2 separate regions of the Homo sapiens genome follow, and region 2 is linked to region 1. The links come from fine-mapping of genetic effects on gene expression. Tissue or cell type: prefrontal cortex. Region 1 holds a variant in brackets; the other region holds the start of a gene. All regions are shown on one strand. Distances are from middle to middle.

Evidence for each region. PIP is the estimated chance that this variant, and not a neighbour inherited with it, causes the effect.
Region 2: it holds the start of FRMPD2, and the variant in region 1 is fine-mapped to the expression of FRMPD2 in prefrontal cortex (GTEx, PIP 0.97).

What each region holds. Positions count from the first base shown.
Region 1 is chr10:48,445,523-48,453,628 of GRCh38, forward strand. It overlaps ARHGAP22 (Rho GTPase activating protein 22), which reads right to left. Exons shown (of 10, transcript NM_021226.4): 8 at 7,782-7,903; 9 at 4,739-5,618; 10 at 514-1,097. The coding sequence ends at 869. Among named protein-coding and RNA genes, the nearest start is that of ARHGAP22-IT1, 62 kb to the right of the region's middle. RefSeq lists an enhancer at 1-547. The variant GCTGA/G (reference allele first, on the strand shown) is at 4,527.
Region 2 is chr10:48,270,570-48,278,675 of GRCh38, forward strand. FRMPD2 (FERM and PDZ domain containing 2) reads right to left here and starts at 4,127. Exons shown (of 29, transcript NM_001018071.4): 1 at 3,974-4,127. The coding sequence starts at 3,998.

The sequences.
Region 1 (8,106 bases):
AGCCAGAGTAGGGGGGTGAACAGCAGGGAAGCGGGGGCTGGAAGGGAGCTGGGCAGGCGCCCAGAGTGAGGCATAGGCACCTGGAGTACGGTGAACAGACGTTTCCCATGGCCTTGGCTCAGCCCTCCTGTAGAGTGGCCACACTTGCCCACACCTCGCCCAAGCACAGCATCTGTGCTGGGTGCCCACTCAGGCTCTGGCCCTGGAGCAGAGCTAGGGCCATGGTGGAAAGCCCAGGGGACCTCCCAAGACAGAAACTAGCTGCAGAGGTCCAGATGGCTACGGGGCGGGGGGGAGTAAAGAAAGGCATCCCACCTGGAACATGCAGACGAGACAGCTGAAAGCACAAGGCTGTTGCCCCTTGGGGGGCTTCACGTCCCACTTCACAATGCCTGTGCTATTCCACCCAGGGGCATACCTCAGGGGGCTCCTAGCCCTTGGAGAAACAGGAGTGGTCCTGTATTGTGTCCTGTATTGCGAGGCATGAAAAATGAGCCAGGTAACAAGGCACCATGCTTTGTGAGCACATTTAATAAAGAAAGCTGACTGTTCCCGGTGGCTGCCTGGATCCTGGGCGCCCTCCATTTCTGTGGCCATGAAGGATATTTCCTGGGTAAGGGCTAAGCGCTACTCTTGGTACCGTCCCCTTCTGACCCTCACCAGGAACTGCATGGTTGGAGCAGCATCTGATCCCACCTGGAGTGTGTGGGGTCCCAAAAGTCCCCACAGTCCCCACAGAGGTATCAGGATCTCTCTCTCTCCAGCTGGCTCCAGAGCGCCTGGCTGCTCCAGAGATACAGACGCTTCTAACTCCATACAAGGCTGGAGACCAGCAGACGTGGTACAGAAGTGAGCTCTGCCATTCCTTTTACTTTGGGGCCCTGGCACCTTTTGCCCCAACAGTCAAGCTTCCTAGGGTCGAAAAAAACTCCTCCATTTCCCTCTGCAACAGCTGGTTCCTCCTCTCCGCATCCTCCCGCGCCCGTTCAGAGTTCCGCAGCTTTATTTCCAGCATGATGTATTTTTTCTTTTCCTGGTCCAGTTCTTCTTCTAACCGGGACATTCGTTTTCTCAGGTCAGCACTCCCTTCTTCGATTCTGAAAAGTCAAGGAGAGATGCTGTTTGAGACTCTGCGGGCCAGGTTCACTGTCCCATGGGTATACCATGCTTGTGCTCACTGTGGGTTGAGGGGTCAGGCCAAGCCATGGCGGCAGGAGGAAACCCTGGCTCATCTGCTCCTCACAAGAACCCCAGTACTTCACCCATGAGCAAATTGCCCCCTGCCATAGCTCCCCTAGCTCCTCTGGGCCTGTGATCCCGAAATGCCAACACAATGATCCATGCCTTCGGTGCCTCCCTGGGTCCGCATTTGCCCCTCCAGTGCAGTATGGGATCCCTGCCAGCTGGTAGGAACAGTACAGGCCCCTGCATGGGGAGGGTTGGGACTCGGACTGTCCCCTGGCCTTTGCTCCTGTGCTGTGGCCTCCCCTCCCACAGCTCCCTGCAGCTCCCCACACTGTCCCCATGATCCAGCCACACGTGGTGACCCACAGAAGATCCTGTGGGGTAGTCACTTCCCTTCCTGCTCTCCCGTCATGTTCAGCTCAAGCGCCCCCTCCATGATGCTACTTCCTGTGATCCTCCCCAGCAGGTCACAATGGTGCTCCTCTGTGCCACCAGAGCCTATACCACACGCTTCCATGCAGGCTCATGCTGCAGTGTGCCAAGGTTGGCATGGCCATCTTTTTGACCAGACAACCAGCTTCTGTCTTTCCGAAGGGACACACCTGAGCCCAGCCCCTGGGAACATATGCTGGATTTTAATGCCCAGCCTGGTGACCTCTGAGCCACATGGCTGTGGACAGGACACAAGCCACAGTGAAATGCAGAGGGTAACTGCTCCTCAGAGCACTGGTAACCATGGACTGGAACATGCCAGGGGCCAGCACAGCACCTGGTACGTGGTGCATGATGAATAAACACGGATTCCTCAACCCACCAAAACGAAGCCTCCATCCTCATCACTGAGCTTGAAGCATGGCCTGAGCCCTCCCTACCAGGATCACAGACAGCTGTCAGAGAGAAGCCACCCACCTCCCCACTGCTGCCCCTGGCTCGGGCCTGGACCTCCCCTCTTCCTTCTCTGTCAGGCTCAAGACTCCAAGCCCCAACTACACGCTGATGACCCTGCACCATTTCATCAGCATCTCTGACTTAAAGGGTCCTGACCCTCATCTCCAGACCACTCTTCCGCAGCCCTGGTGCACTCTTGGTGAACACCTTCCCTCAGCTGCTCAGCTGAACAATGATGTCCTCCCCTAAGTCCATTCTTTTTCTCGGTCCCATATCTGATCAGTTAGCAAAACCTTTTGGCTCTACCTTCAAAATATGCTCAGCACCTGGCCGCTTCCCCCACCTCCACCTGCTGCCCCATAGGGCCACACCCCCCATAGGTCAGGCCTAGACCCCCACACCTCCTAACTGGTCTGTTCTGCCCTTGTCCCCTGGCAAGCTCTGCTCGGCATGGCACCCAGGTGCACCTGTCAAAGTGCCCAATGTGCCAAGACCCTCCAGCGGCTTCTCACTTCATTCTCATCTCACTCCACGAAAAACCAGAGCATTGCCCAGGCCAAAAGGCCCCACCCATTGCCCCCTCCCCACACATCTCCAGTCCCCAGCCCCTGACTCTCCCCCACTACAGGGGTCTTGGGGTCAGTGCTGGCTGCAGCTCTGGGGTCTCCTTCCCAGGGCCCTCCAACCTTCTACCCTGAGGCTCCTCTCCGCTCCCCTCCATGCTGCTCTATGTTCCCCTCCTTCATCTCCCTTTTAACACACCGTGTATTTTTAAAAATGTATCGTGCTTATGGTCTTTGTCTCCCTGCAACCCAAATAAGAATGGGGACAGAGATTTTGATCAGTTTTCACCCCAACTGTGGCCACCTGCACAGCATCTGGTACTTCACAGAAAACAGGTTCTCTTTTGGGAATGCACGAAGGAAGGCTGACTTCCCAGCAGGGCCCTGGGGAGGGGCTCTGACCAGAGTCCTGGGAGCCAGGACAAGGCCAGCCTCACCCCACCCCCCACCCGATGGCCCATACTTCCAGAGAACAGGACACACATTCCCCAATCACCTGCTGGACAGGACAGGTGCTAATGCCCTCACCTTCCTTCCTGTGCTCAGAGACCTTCCTCACTCTAGACCCTCCCTCTAACCAAGACAACGACCCAGACCACTCTGCTAGCGAGTACAGTCCCTCCACAAGGGCTACCACTGCTATCCCTTTTCCTCTGGGAACCTCATCTTACCTCCAGCCACCAGGCAGGAGTCAATGCGAGCAGCAAAGTTTCCCGAGCGCTCTCATCCACTGTGAGTCACTTAATACTCAGGACAAATGGGTGAGGTCACTGGGGCCCAAAGATCCTGCCAGGGACACTCAGCCAATCCCTGGTGGAGCTGGGACTAGAATCCAAGTAGTCTGACCTGGAGTCAAAGAGCCCTGCATCTCCCTTGAGAAACCAGGCCTCAGAGCAGGCCAGAGGAGCTCCAGGCACTCAGCACACAACTGGCGCAGCTGGTCCAGCCCAGCCTTCTGCATGGACAGCCTTCTGTATGGTAAGAGTTCCCATGTACCCTGTAGTTTGGTCTGTGAGCTCATCTGCAGCAGATAGCATCTTCTACTATATTTCTGGAGGCCCTTGGGTTCTACTGATGCTATTTCCTTTCTCGGCTCCATCCTATGGGTCCTTCCAGCCCTGGCTCAGGCACTGCCTGCTGTGACTTCCCCCATGGCAGAGGCCTCTGCCCTCAAGGTCCCTCTCCTTCTCTTCCTTTTGCAGACATGGTGCCTGTACATGCCTGGCACTCTCCATCACCCAGGGAACAGCTGTCAGCAGAGCAAAAGGGCAAGGGCTGCCATTCCAGCTCCCAGTGGAAATCACAGGCTCAGAGTGGGCAGCAGGAATGCCTTCCACCTCCATCCACTGCCTCTAATGGATAAAGGAATTCCCTGCTAGTGGGTGGGACCCAGGTGAACAGGTCGGCCAGCTAACGGGGACCTGCAGCCAGAGGGACCAAGGAGTCTGAGATGCTGAGGGAAACGCCCTGCGCTGGAGAACCTGGTCTCCAGGAGCTGAGGTTCCTCACTGCAGAGGGCAACCCCGGTCCTCATGGGAGGCTGGAACTCTGGCCCTCTGTTAGTGAGATTGTAAGCCTCAGGGTGCAGCACAACCATCCTGTGACAAGGGCGGACACGAGGGCTTGGTTCAGCAGGGAAACTGGATTCTGATCCCATCAAGGAAGGGGTCCTCACTTCCAGCCTGGCTGACCTGGGGCCTGGGCACTTCCTGGCACTCAGCATCCAGGCTATGAGCCCTTGTACTGGGACAAGCCTGGGACCTGCCTCCAGGGGCCGCCCCCTCCCTGGCTGCAGACTGCACACTGACTCTGTTTCCACCCCTGCAGCAAAGGTCCCCGGCAGGCTGGGCAGGCATTCCCACTTGCGTGGAGTCAGCAGGCCTCTGCAGC[GCTGA/G]CTGCGTGCCAGACTGACTGCGTGCCAGACTGACTGTGTGCCAAGTCTGCCAGTCCTAGGGCTTTCCCAGAGCTAGGATTCCCCTCTCTGAGGCTGGCTTCCAGGGCCAGCGGCCCAGAGGTTAGGGGCCGACGCCCATGTGCCAAGAGCACGGCTCTCCCTGCAGGCTCCGCCCCGTCACAGGAGGCTCCACGGGGCAGCAAGTTACCTTTTCACACTCCTCTCGTACTCAGTCCGCTGGCGGCACAGCTCGGCCCTGAGCTCAGTGACCAGCCCCTGTAAGGCCTCGGAGCGGCGCGCGTGTTCCCGGGTGGGGCTGTCCGGCTCGCTGGGCTCGCTGTTGCTGGCACCCGCGCCCGCCTCGTCCATGCTGTGGTCCAGGTCCAGGGACTTGGGGTCCTCGCTGCTGCTGGGGAGCGGGGAGGGCTCCAGGGCCCAGTCGGTGTGCAGGGAACTGCGGGCAGACGAGTCGCTGGCGCGGCAGGCCGTGCAGCTGCTGAGTGAGCCCCCCACCGACGACTCGCTGGACGAGGCCCCGGACCACGCCATACTGGCCACGCTGGGTATGCCGGGGACCAGGCCCGGCGCGGGCACATTGTCGTAGGTGGAGAGTCTCTGCACGGAGCCCGAGTCCTTGAGCCGGTCTCCCGACGAGGCCCGGCGGTGTCCGCGCAGGGAGGACAGCCCGTTCATAAGCCAGTTCCCGCCGGAGGAGATGATGGGCACCTCCAGGGATGAGCCGCCCCCCTTCGGGCTTCCCGATAGGGACCTCGGCTGCCGGAAGGAGGACTTCCAACTGGGCAGGGTCTGCACCTTCTTCCCAGGGCTGCACCGGCTCCCCGGCCCCGTGGGGGCTGTTCTGGAGAGCACCGCCACGGCCGCCCCGTCCAGGGAAGAGGTCCTGTGCGCGGGCAGGCCGGGGCCGCCGGGCTCTCCTTGGCTGTCCCTGGTGACCTCCTCGGAGCCCCACCCCACTGCGCATTGCAGGCCCCCGCGCGGGGAGGTGGGCCCTTCCGGGACCGGTGCCGTGAAGAGCTGGCTGTGTTTGCGGATGAGGACGGTCATCAGGTGCTGGACGAGGGAAGTGCCTGCCGGGAAGAGAGGCGGAGAAGGGCCTTGCTGCCAGCCACTCGGCCCAGGCTCGCTCTGCCAGTCATGGAGAAGCTGCAGCTTCGTGGGAGCTGGCCCTGTCCCCAGAGCCAGGCCGCCCCTCAAGGGAGCCTTCATCCGCCCAGAGGAAAGGACCACACACCCTCCAACTCCAGGCAGGACAGCAGGATGGGGCCGCAGAACCGCCTTCCTCAGGCACAGAGCCGCAAGCAGGGAGGAAGCACTGTGCCTGCGCTCACGCCCTCCAGCTGGGGTGGGGTGAGGAAGCAGGCACCAAGGCTGCACGGTGAGCAGGTGGCAGGTTGGAACTGGAACCTGGGACCTGAGATGCCAGAACTCTCTCGGCTGCCCCACGTCACCCCTCTGTGCTGCTGACAACTGCCATGCCTGAATGTCCACACTCTGGGAGCATAGGGCTCTGGGACAGGGAATAGAGCCATCTTTCCTGTGTGGGGGCACACACATACAATTGCACACACAATGCACCCCGCCCACCCCCTAAAATACCCCCCACAATCACACGTACAATGCACCCCATCCACCCCCAAAGTCCCACACACACACACAACTGGACAATGCACCCACCCAGCCTCCCCAAATCCCCCAACACACAATCGCACATACAATGCCCACTCCCGAAAATCCCACACACATAAAATTACACACACAATGCACTCTACCCAGTTTCCCCAAAGCCCCTACACACACACAAGTGAACACACAAATCCCCTACCCAGCCTCCCCAAATCCCCCCATACAGAATCGCACAATGAACCCCACCCACTGCCCAAAATCCGCCACACACAATTGCACACACAATGCACCCTCCGCAGCCTCCCCAAATTCCCCCATACACAACTGCACACATAGTGCACCCTGCTCACCCCCCAGAATCCCACATACATATAATCTCGCACACACACAATCCCCCGTGTCTAGGCCAAGGCCCCTGAGATGCAGCCCCCAGTCCTGGGGACTCAGTTCCTACGGTGGTGGGGTGGGGGCCTGCAGCGGAGGTGGGCAGTGCAGGAAGGACCAGGGCATCTATCCAGCTGCCTCATTCCCTCCTGCCACCCTCACCACAAAGGCCCGACGCTAGGAGGTCCCCCGGTAGGAGGGAGGGCTGAGTGCCAGGGTGGACTCTCCCACTGAAGTTGACTAGGAATCCTGGAAGAAGTCAAGGAAGGAATTCTGAGGCCAAGAACCTAGGTGAAGCAGGAACTCCATGAAGCAGGCAGGGCAGGCCTCCTCCCTCAAGCATCTGTACCACCAGGCAGGTAGGAGCTTGTGTTTTCCTGGCCTCAAGGGGCCCTGGGGTGGGAGACCCAGCCAGGGCTGACCAAAGTGCGGACTTGAGCAAAAGCACTCCGCCACGTCCCTCAACATGGGATAAGGGCAAGAACAGCCTCAGCTGTGGGCTTCCTGTCTGAGCAGCACGTCTCTCATGCATACTCCACTGGGGACAGTGTTCCATGGGCCCTATGAGGTGGGCTGTCTTTTCTATGGCAGCCTACACCTGTGCCCTTTGCTAAGTCTGGCTGACTGGCCTCTGGTGAGTCCCCTCGCCTCTCTTGGCCTCAGTTTCCTCATCTGTAAAGTGGGGGCGATTACCACAGCACAGGCTGGTTGTAAAGCCTGAAATGAGATGATACAAACAAAGCACTTGGTAGAAGCTTACTGAAAGCGGCTGCTGTTGCTGCTATTTTTAATCACTTATTGTTATTTATCATAGAGAAATTCTCCAGGGTTTGCAAAGCTGACATCCAGGAACCTATGACAATTGCTTAATTGTAAAAGAAAAGCAAACATGTCTGTGTTCAAGGGCAAAAGTGCTGACCTCTCCCATCCCTCCAGCCTCTTCCATCCACAGAAACCCCTGGCTATTCTAATTGCACCCAGTGACCTGCTGCTGCCCATCGCAGGGCAAAGTTCCTTTTTTATCTTATAGCTGAACCTCATGGGGGTCGGGGGTGAGGTCTGCAGAAGTTCCTGCCAAGTCCCCAGAGATGGAGATGTGCCACCTGAGCCACCCCTCCTGCTGGCCTGGCCCTGGGCTGGGATGGTTCCAAGGACTTGCCGTGGACCAAGATGAGCCCAGACCCCGGCAGCACCCAGGGCCACCAGGTACACCTCCCACTTACCTTCCATGATGGTTACTGGGTCCTCTACCTGTGGCCGCAGAATGTTAGGTCCAAAAACGGTTGCCAGATTCTGGACACTCATCTTGTTGACATTTGAGTATGCCTGAACTTCATCCAGAAACCTGCAAAGTAAGGAAGCAGCAGTCATCAAAGAAGCAAGTTGTGATGCCCAGTCTCCTGTGTGCGGCCTGGACGCACCGCCACACCCCTGCTGAGCCCTGCTGCCTGTGGGCTTTTGCCCACTGGGTGTAGCCTGCCTCTGCCAGGCTCGATGAGGGAAGGCTTCCCCTGGGGCCCAAGAGGGCCATCAGAAGTAAAAGTCACT
Region 2 (8,106 bases), 170 kb before region 1:
ACCAACCATCAGTCCATCCCCTCCACAGCCATGTCTTAAGCTCAGACCCGTTTCTTGAGCTCCTGCTTGGTGATCCCAGGATGTCCTTTAGACAACCCCCTTAGATGTAGAGAGCTGAATTCACCTTCCCCCCACCTCCTCCTCTTTCAACCTCTCTTATTTGAATACAGCAAATGGCATTCCCACCACCTAACCCCTCAAGCCAAACATTCAGACGACATTTTTGTCTCCTTCCCATCCCTCAACTTCCCAGCCCGTTAATCACCATCTCCAAAATCTCTCTAAAATCCGCCTGTTTCTCTCCAACCCCACCACCACTGACCTGGTCTAAGCCACCAGCACCCTCCCCTGAATGACCACTGAAATGTAAATTCTACAAAATGGTTTCCTACAACCATACCTTGCCCCTGCCCTGATCCATTCTCTGTCTTGCAGAGTCCTCTTCCTAAAACACAAATCTGACCATGTCACACCTCGTGAAAACTTTCAGCCACTTTCTATTCTCCAAAGGATCAGCTCAGATCCTGAGCAAGATTTGCAGGACCTCAGGCCCACCGCTTTGGACTGATCTCTAGCAGCTTCCTCTTTCCCCCATGGCCTTTTTCCAGCCTTAGACGCACCACAACCCCCTTGCCTCCTGTCCTTCTGCAGGCTCTGTGGGGACACTCGCATCTGGAGCTCCTTCTTCCCCCACTGGCTGAATGACTCAGTAAATTAACAAGTGAATACTTCAGATGCTGCCTGCACTCTGGACTGGCATCATACAAAAATGATACTGATAGAAGAAACAAAAGAAATTCCTAGATGGCACTTTTTTAAAATGTCTAATACATTTACTCTCCAGCCAGACACTGTTTAACCCATCTTGAATCTATTGAAGAGTGAGTTCTGACAGCTCAGCCTTGATCTGCCTCCTGCCTGGCACCAGCCCTCCTGGAACTGGTTCCTGTGCACCATCCTACACATCTCCTTCCTGCCTCCCTTCACTACCTACTCTATTTCCAACAATGTTGGGCTATGATAGCTCAAGCAAATACAGGAATAAGGAGGCTTACAGCCAAGGCAAGAAAAAAAAAGGGAGGGCAGTTAACAGTAGAGCTGCCAGCGACCAGTAAAAGGAAGCCTGAGGAATAGGAATCAGCCTCGAAAGCAGACTTCTGCCAGGAAAGCAGCTAAAAACACTGATATCTCAGGGTGAATACAATTCAGGAGGGGAATGAGAATAGAAAAGCATAGTGGCTGGAAGAGCAGGCTCCGAGGTCAGAGCTGGATTGATCCCACCTCACCGTGGGCAAGTTACTTCCTCTCTTTACTCGTTTATACCATGAGTTATTGTGTCTGGCATATGGCAGTTTTTCAATAAATCCTAGCTATTCATATTATGAATCCTGAGTATATGGAGAGGGCAGGGAATAGGCTAGAGACAAGCCAGCAAAACTGGGGTTTCAGACCAGAAATGACTTCACTAATGGAGCTGCAGGTAGCATTGTCCTGGGCTGCACACCGCAGCCCTTGCTATTCCTGAGCAGTTGAATTCATAGTCATCTATTCATGGTGTTCTTTTTAATAAGTCCAACATTTTGGTGAGTGACAGCTTCATCCCCAGAGAGAAGGAAGTATTCTTCCTAATTCTTCCTTCGTGCCCCCTTCATTTGCACCCATGAGTCATTTTCTCACCACTCTGTATTCTGCTCCTTAAACCTTTCTTGGATTCTGTGATATGCTGAAGAAGGCTCCTACTGGCCTGTGAGAGCCAATTGTTAAATTTCCAGAAATTTTGTAAGCTGGTCATTAAACACAGCCATTACCAAAAAGTATTATAAAAATCTCCAATTAAATAAGTTATATTAACAATATGTTGAAACTCACCATTTCCAAATTATTTTACTGCATTTTACTGTTGTCTGTGCTTTGGAACTTATTTAAATGAAATACATTTCTATGATGGAAATACTGTGTAATGGTGTGCTGGTGCACAGCCCTTCCACCTTTGTGTTCAGCGATATCACATTGGGAGCTTGTGATTGGCCATGGTGGTAGTATTTATACCACAAAAATTGGCAAAAGCTACAAATTAGGGCTTGGTTTGCTGTTTTTTCATTCCCTAAGAAAACTAAGAAAGTGATGGAGAAAATGTTCATGCAGATTAAACCTAAAAGTGTGTCGCGTCCATAGTTGTTACATTGTGAATAACACAAAAATTGGGAAAACACTCTTCCAAATTCAAAAACTATGATCTGATCCAGCAGTCACTCATGTCATTGACAGATGAGTGAAGTTAAGACAATCATCTTCATTGTTTCACTTTCTTCTTACTTGTCAATGTAAACAAAAATATCAACCAACATTCATATTGGAACTACATTCAGTGGTCAATTGCAAACAGGCTGACCAAGGGTATAAGAGTTCAGCAAAAATCAACAAATGCATGCTGTGAGAATCAAATGGCTATATAGAATTTGTAATAAAGAGTATTTTATATTTTATTACTTGTAAATTGTGCAATATACATCCTTCATATCAGTAAAATTTATAATGAACTTATTAGATGCATATGTATTTGTTTTTGCTCACAGTGCTGGCAGCACCAGCTTGGAGACCTCCCCTTCTCTACATTCCACTGTTGTTTTCTTAGGTTAGGCCATCTGTCATCATTCCAGGTTTCATCCTCTCCAATCCCACACCCATATTGCTACTAGATTAATCTTCTTAATATTAAATGCAGACACGACACATCCTTCATTAAAACTACCAGTGCCTATCTGGGACCTTCTGAGTGAACTCTGGGCCATAGAAGGCCTTCCTTGCTCTCCCCTGTTCACCTCTGCAGCCTCCTTTCTTATCAGATTCCCCTGTTCCCACTTTACTAAAGTTAGGCCAAACTGCCTGCTGTTCCCAGAGCATGCTTTACTTATTCATGCCACTGGGCCTTTGCATGTGCTTTTCTCTGCTTGGGATGCCTTTTCCAATCCCCCTGCTCCCAACTCCTGCTAGTGTTCGCTTAGCATTAAAGCCATGCTCAAGCAACACCTCTCCCAGGAGCCCGTGCCACCTCCATTTCGGCACTTGCTATCACCGCCAGTTTTCATGCAGGTCCAGCATTCTGCCCCCCGACCCCCACTGTCCTACAACCTGGAAGATCCTCTGGGCTGGGGGAGACATCCCCAGCATTTGGCATGTGGCCCCAGGAGATACCAAGTAAGTTCTCGTTGAATTAATGAACTACTTAATTGGTTTCAGCTACAGCCTATAGCAAATCACAGGATTTAGCCAGGAGAAATAGACACGACTCATCTCTGAACTCAATTGTTGCTTTAAAAAAAAAAAAAAGTTGTTTACACTGTTGAAAACCTCAACTGAGTTTTTTCTTTCCTTTAAGCATACAAATAAAGCCAGGTGAATCATTTCTTTTCCATTGTTTTCTGGAAGTCAGCTAGGCATACCCTGAGTCTTCTTACTTTAAACCACTGATACTCTTTAAGCAATAACCAAAACACTTGCTTCTGAAAGATAGTGACAGCCATGATTTACTGGGCTACTCAAATGCTCCAAGTATGTTCTAAGTGCCTTACGCGTGTCACCCCATGAATCCTCAGCAACATCGTAACGCATGGGGCATTATTATCCCCATTTTACAGGTAAGAAAAACGAGTCTTAGGAAAGTTAAAAGAGTCATTTGAATTTGCACAGATGCTGAATAGCAAAGCAGTGATTCAAACAAGGGGTGGTCTGATTCTAAAGTCCATGTTTTCTCTTCTGAGCCCATTCTTTATTGCTAAAAAACAAATACAATGTCTATCAGGCTTAGCCAATGGCCTGGAACAAATAATACTCCAAATAATACCACAAAGGGCACTGACACAGGTCCTTGCCCAGCTGTGTTCTTCTTATTCCGGATACCTAGACCCAGTAAGAAGTTTGCCCTTTCCCTGACCAGATTTATAGGAGAAAACTGAATGATGCCAAGGAATACCTGCGTCCTTCGTTAAAGGCTGCATCCAAAAGTCTCCGTGACCAGGTCTAGGCCTTCATCATGGGACAACTTTCCAACAAGGAGCAGGGGTCTCTTGCAAGTCTGTCCGCGGAGCTCCCTGCCACCAGCACTGTTGCCGCTGTCTTTGTTTACTGCTTGTCACTAAGCACTTGCTGCCCAGCGAGTGAGTCAACAAGGCCCCTTCCCTTTCCTGCCACCACTCTCATTCCCTGGGTCCTGCGCAGTCTCTGGCCTGTTAGCAGGCACTGCCACCCCAGCAGCCTGCGTCCTCAAAGCCAGTGACCCGTGAGAGAGCCAGGAAGAGCTCAAGTGGATTAGGTGCCACTGAAGGCAATGGGATTGCTGCTCAGCAGGGCTTTTACGCTGATGTCTCTTTATCTCCTGGCCCAATCAAAAGAAAGAGCTCTGCAAGGAACTGGGGGCAGCCCCAGAGCAGAGGCTTAGTGTCATCAACTCAAGAGTCCTCCATGCCCTTTCATAGTGTCAGACATTGGACCTGCAACCAACAGGACAGGGAACCATGTGAAAGCAGCAGGAGGAAATGATAACCTGGATCTGTCTGTGAGAAAGCAAGAAAAATGTGGTTAGAGAAAGGGGGAAAGGAATTCTTACTCTTTCTGGTGCTTGGATTCAGAAAGGAACCAGCAGAGATGGGGAACAGCAAGAAGTAGATCATAGCTCTGTAGTAGAAGGGGCAAAAGAACAGATCTCTCAAGCCCTTTAAATCAATAGCAGTGTCAAAACTGAGACGTATTTATTTAAAAAGAAAACATGAGTTTTTGCCTGACTACAGAATAAAATACTAAAATTTGAGGCCGGGCACAGTGGCTCATGCCTGTAATCCCAGCACTTTGGGAGGCCAAGGCGGGCAGATCACGAGGTCAGGAGATCGAGACCATCCTGGCTAACATGGCAAAACCCCGTCTCTACTAAAAATACAAAAAATTAGCTGGGCCTGGAGGCGGGTGCCTGTAGTCCCAGCTACTCCGGAGGCTGAGGCAGAAGAATGGCGTGAACCTGGGAGGCGGAGCTTGCAGTGAGCCAAGATCGGGCCACTGCACTCCAGCCTGGGTGACAGAGCGAGACTCTGTCTCGAAAAAAAAATCTGATGAAACTCAGTGCTGGTGAGGGCATGGAGAATGAGTACTCTCATATGCCAATAGTGAGATTACAGATAAGTGCAACTTCTCTGCAGGGAATTTGGTAATATTCATCAAATTTGTAAATGTACATATCCTTTGTAAACCCAGCTGCTAAGAAGTAACCCCATGGACATTCTTGCAAAAGTTCACCAAAGCATCTGAGAAAGGATGCTCTTTGCAGTGTATTTTGGTAGTAGCAGAAAACTGAAAGCCACTGAAGTGCCCATCAACAGTGATTATTGTAGTTCACACACAGTAGAAAACCAGCTATGCAGCTGTGTAAAGGAAGGAAGTAGATCTGTGTGTGCTGGCATATAACAATTGCCTAGAAAATTCTTTAAGTGACAAAAGGTATGGAATAGCCTAGTATGTTTCCTTTTATTACAAATAGGTACATAAAGACCAGGTATATTTACGTATATTTATGTATACATATTCTTTATACACTGTAGTATATTAGAATATTATGTAGACATATTCTTGTGGTTCTGGAAGGAATCACAAGCAACTTAATAGTGGTTGCTAGGGGAAAGAGTTTTGGCTCATTATTTAGTCAGGAAAATTATTGTTCATTTTGGTATTTTCCCCCTATAACCTTATGTTATATTACTTGAAAAAAACTAAAAAACACAATGTTTTACATTTTTTTCTGCTTAAAGCTATCTATATTGACATTCCCTGCTAGCTAGCAAAACATTTCACAATATCTGCAACAATCTTTTACTGTTTTTTCCAAACTTGTCTTCTCATCAGATTCAGCCTTGAAGACGATAAAATGCAGATTCCCAGGCACCACCCTGAATCTGCTGAACCTGAATCTCTGGGCCCGAGCCAGAGCATCTGTATTTTCAGCAAGTGTCCAGGTAATTTTTATTTAGTAATTTTTTCAGGCTGACCACGCAACCTTTCTCCCAGAAGAAGAAAGTTGACTTCTCCAGTCATGTGGCTCGTTCACAACAGAACAAAAAGCAACACCTAAGTCATCTGCCAACAGGTAAATGCTGGTCTGCTTAAAGTCACCACCACTTTCACTTTTTCTGTTAAAAATACTAGCAGTAACCCCCTTCTATTGTTGCTCTGCTAACATTTCATTAAGTCCATTTTTTTGCATAAAAATTTTATCAATGTGTTTTTGTTTTTCAAGTTATCAAAGCTAATAGTTTCTCTCTGAGTTATCTCTGTGTCATTCCCTATATAATTTTGTTATATTTTATATATTTTTATTTTTTAAGGTTATTTTCCTGTCAAAATTCTTTATTGCGTATGATCATTTAAAAAAAAAACTTTATTTTAGGTTCGAGAGTACATGTGAAGTTTTGTTACAGAGGTAAACTCATGTCATGGGGGTTTGTTGTACAGATTATTTCATCACCCAGATATTAAGCCCAGTACCCAGTAGTTATTGGTTCTCTGTCTACTCACACCCCCCCAACCCTCAGGTAGACCCCAGTGTCTGTTGTTTCCTTCTTTGTGCTCATAGTTCTCACGATCCAGCTCCCACTTATAAGTGAGAACATACTGTATTTCATTTTCTGTACATGAATTAGTTTGCTAAGAATAATAGCCTCCAGCTCCATCCATGTTCCCATGAAAAACATGATCTCATTCTTTTTTATGGCTGCATAGTATTCCATGGAGTATGTATACCACATTTTCTTTATCCAATTTGTCATTGATGGGCATTTACATTGATGCCATGTCTTTGCTATTGTGAATAGTGCTGCCATGAACATAAATGTCCATGTGTCTTTATAATAGAACAATTTATATTCCTTTGGGTATATACCCAGTAATGGGATTGCTGGGTAAAATGGTATTTCTGTCTCTAGGTCTTTGAGAAATTGCCACACTGTCTTCCACAATGGTTGAATGAATTTACATTCCCACCAACAGTGTATAAGTGTTCCCTGTTATTTGCAACCTTGCCAACATCTGTTTCTTTATACATATTTTATTAATAGCCATTCTGACTGGTGTGAGATGGTATCTCATTGTGGATTTGATTTGCATTTCTCTCATTATCAATGGTGTTGAGCTTTTTTCATACACTTGTTGGCCGCATGTATGTCTTCTTTTAAGAAGTTTCTGTTCATGTCCTTTGCCCACTTTTTAATAGGGTCGTTTGTTTTTCTCTCGTAAATTTGTTTAAGTTCCTTATAGATGCTGGATATTAGACTTTTGTCAGATGCATATTTTGCAAATATTTTCTCCCATTCTGTAGGTTGTCTGTTTACTCTGTTGATAATTTCTTTTGCTGTGCAGAAGTTCTTAAGTTTAATTAGATCGCACTGTCAATTTTTCCTTTTGTTGTGATTGCTTTTGGTGTCTTTGTCATGAAATCTTTGCCAGTTCCTATGTCCTGAATGGTATTGATTGCCTAGGTTGTCTGCCAGTGTTTTTATAGTTTCTGGTTTTACATTAAGTCCTTAATCCATCTTGAGTTAATTTTGTATATGGTGTAAGGAAGGGGTCCAGTTTTAATATTCTGCATGTGGCTAGCCAGTTATCTCAGCACCATTTATTGAACAGGGAGTCTTTTCCTCATTGCTTGTTTTTGTCAGCTTTGTTGAAGATTCACATGGTTGTAAGTGTACAGCCTTATTTCTGGGCTTTCCATTCTGTTCCATTGGTCTATGTTCCTGTTTTTGTACCAGCATCATGCTGTTTAGGTTACTGTAGCCCTGTAGTATAGTTTGAAGTTGGGTAACTCAATGTCTCCAGCTCTGTTCTTTTTGCTTCAGATTGCCTTGGCTACTCAGGCTGTTTTTTGGTTCCATATGAATTTTAAGATAGTTTTCTTCTAGTTCTGTGAAGAATATTGTTGGTAGTTTGATGGAAATAGCTTTGAATCTGTAAATAGCTTTGGGCAGTAAGGCCATTTTAATGACTTTGATTCTTCCTATCCATGAGCATGGGATGTTTTTCCATTTGTTAGTGTCTTGTCTGATTTCTCTGAGTAGTGTTTTGTAA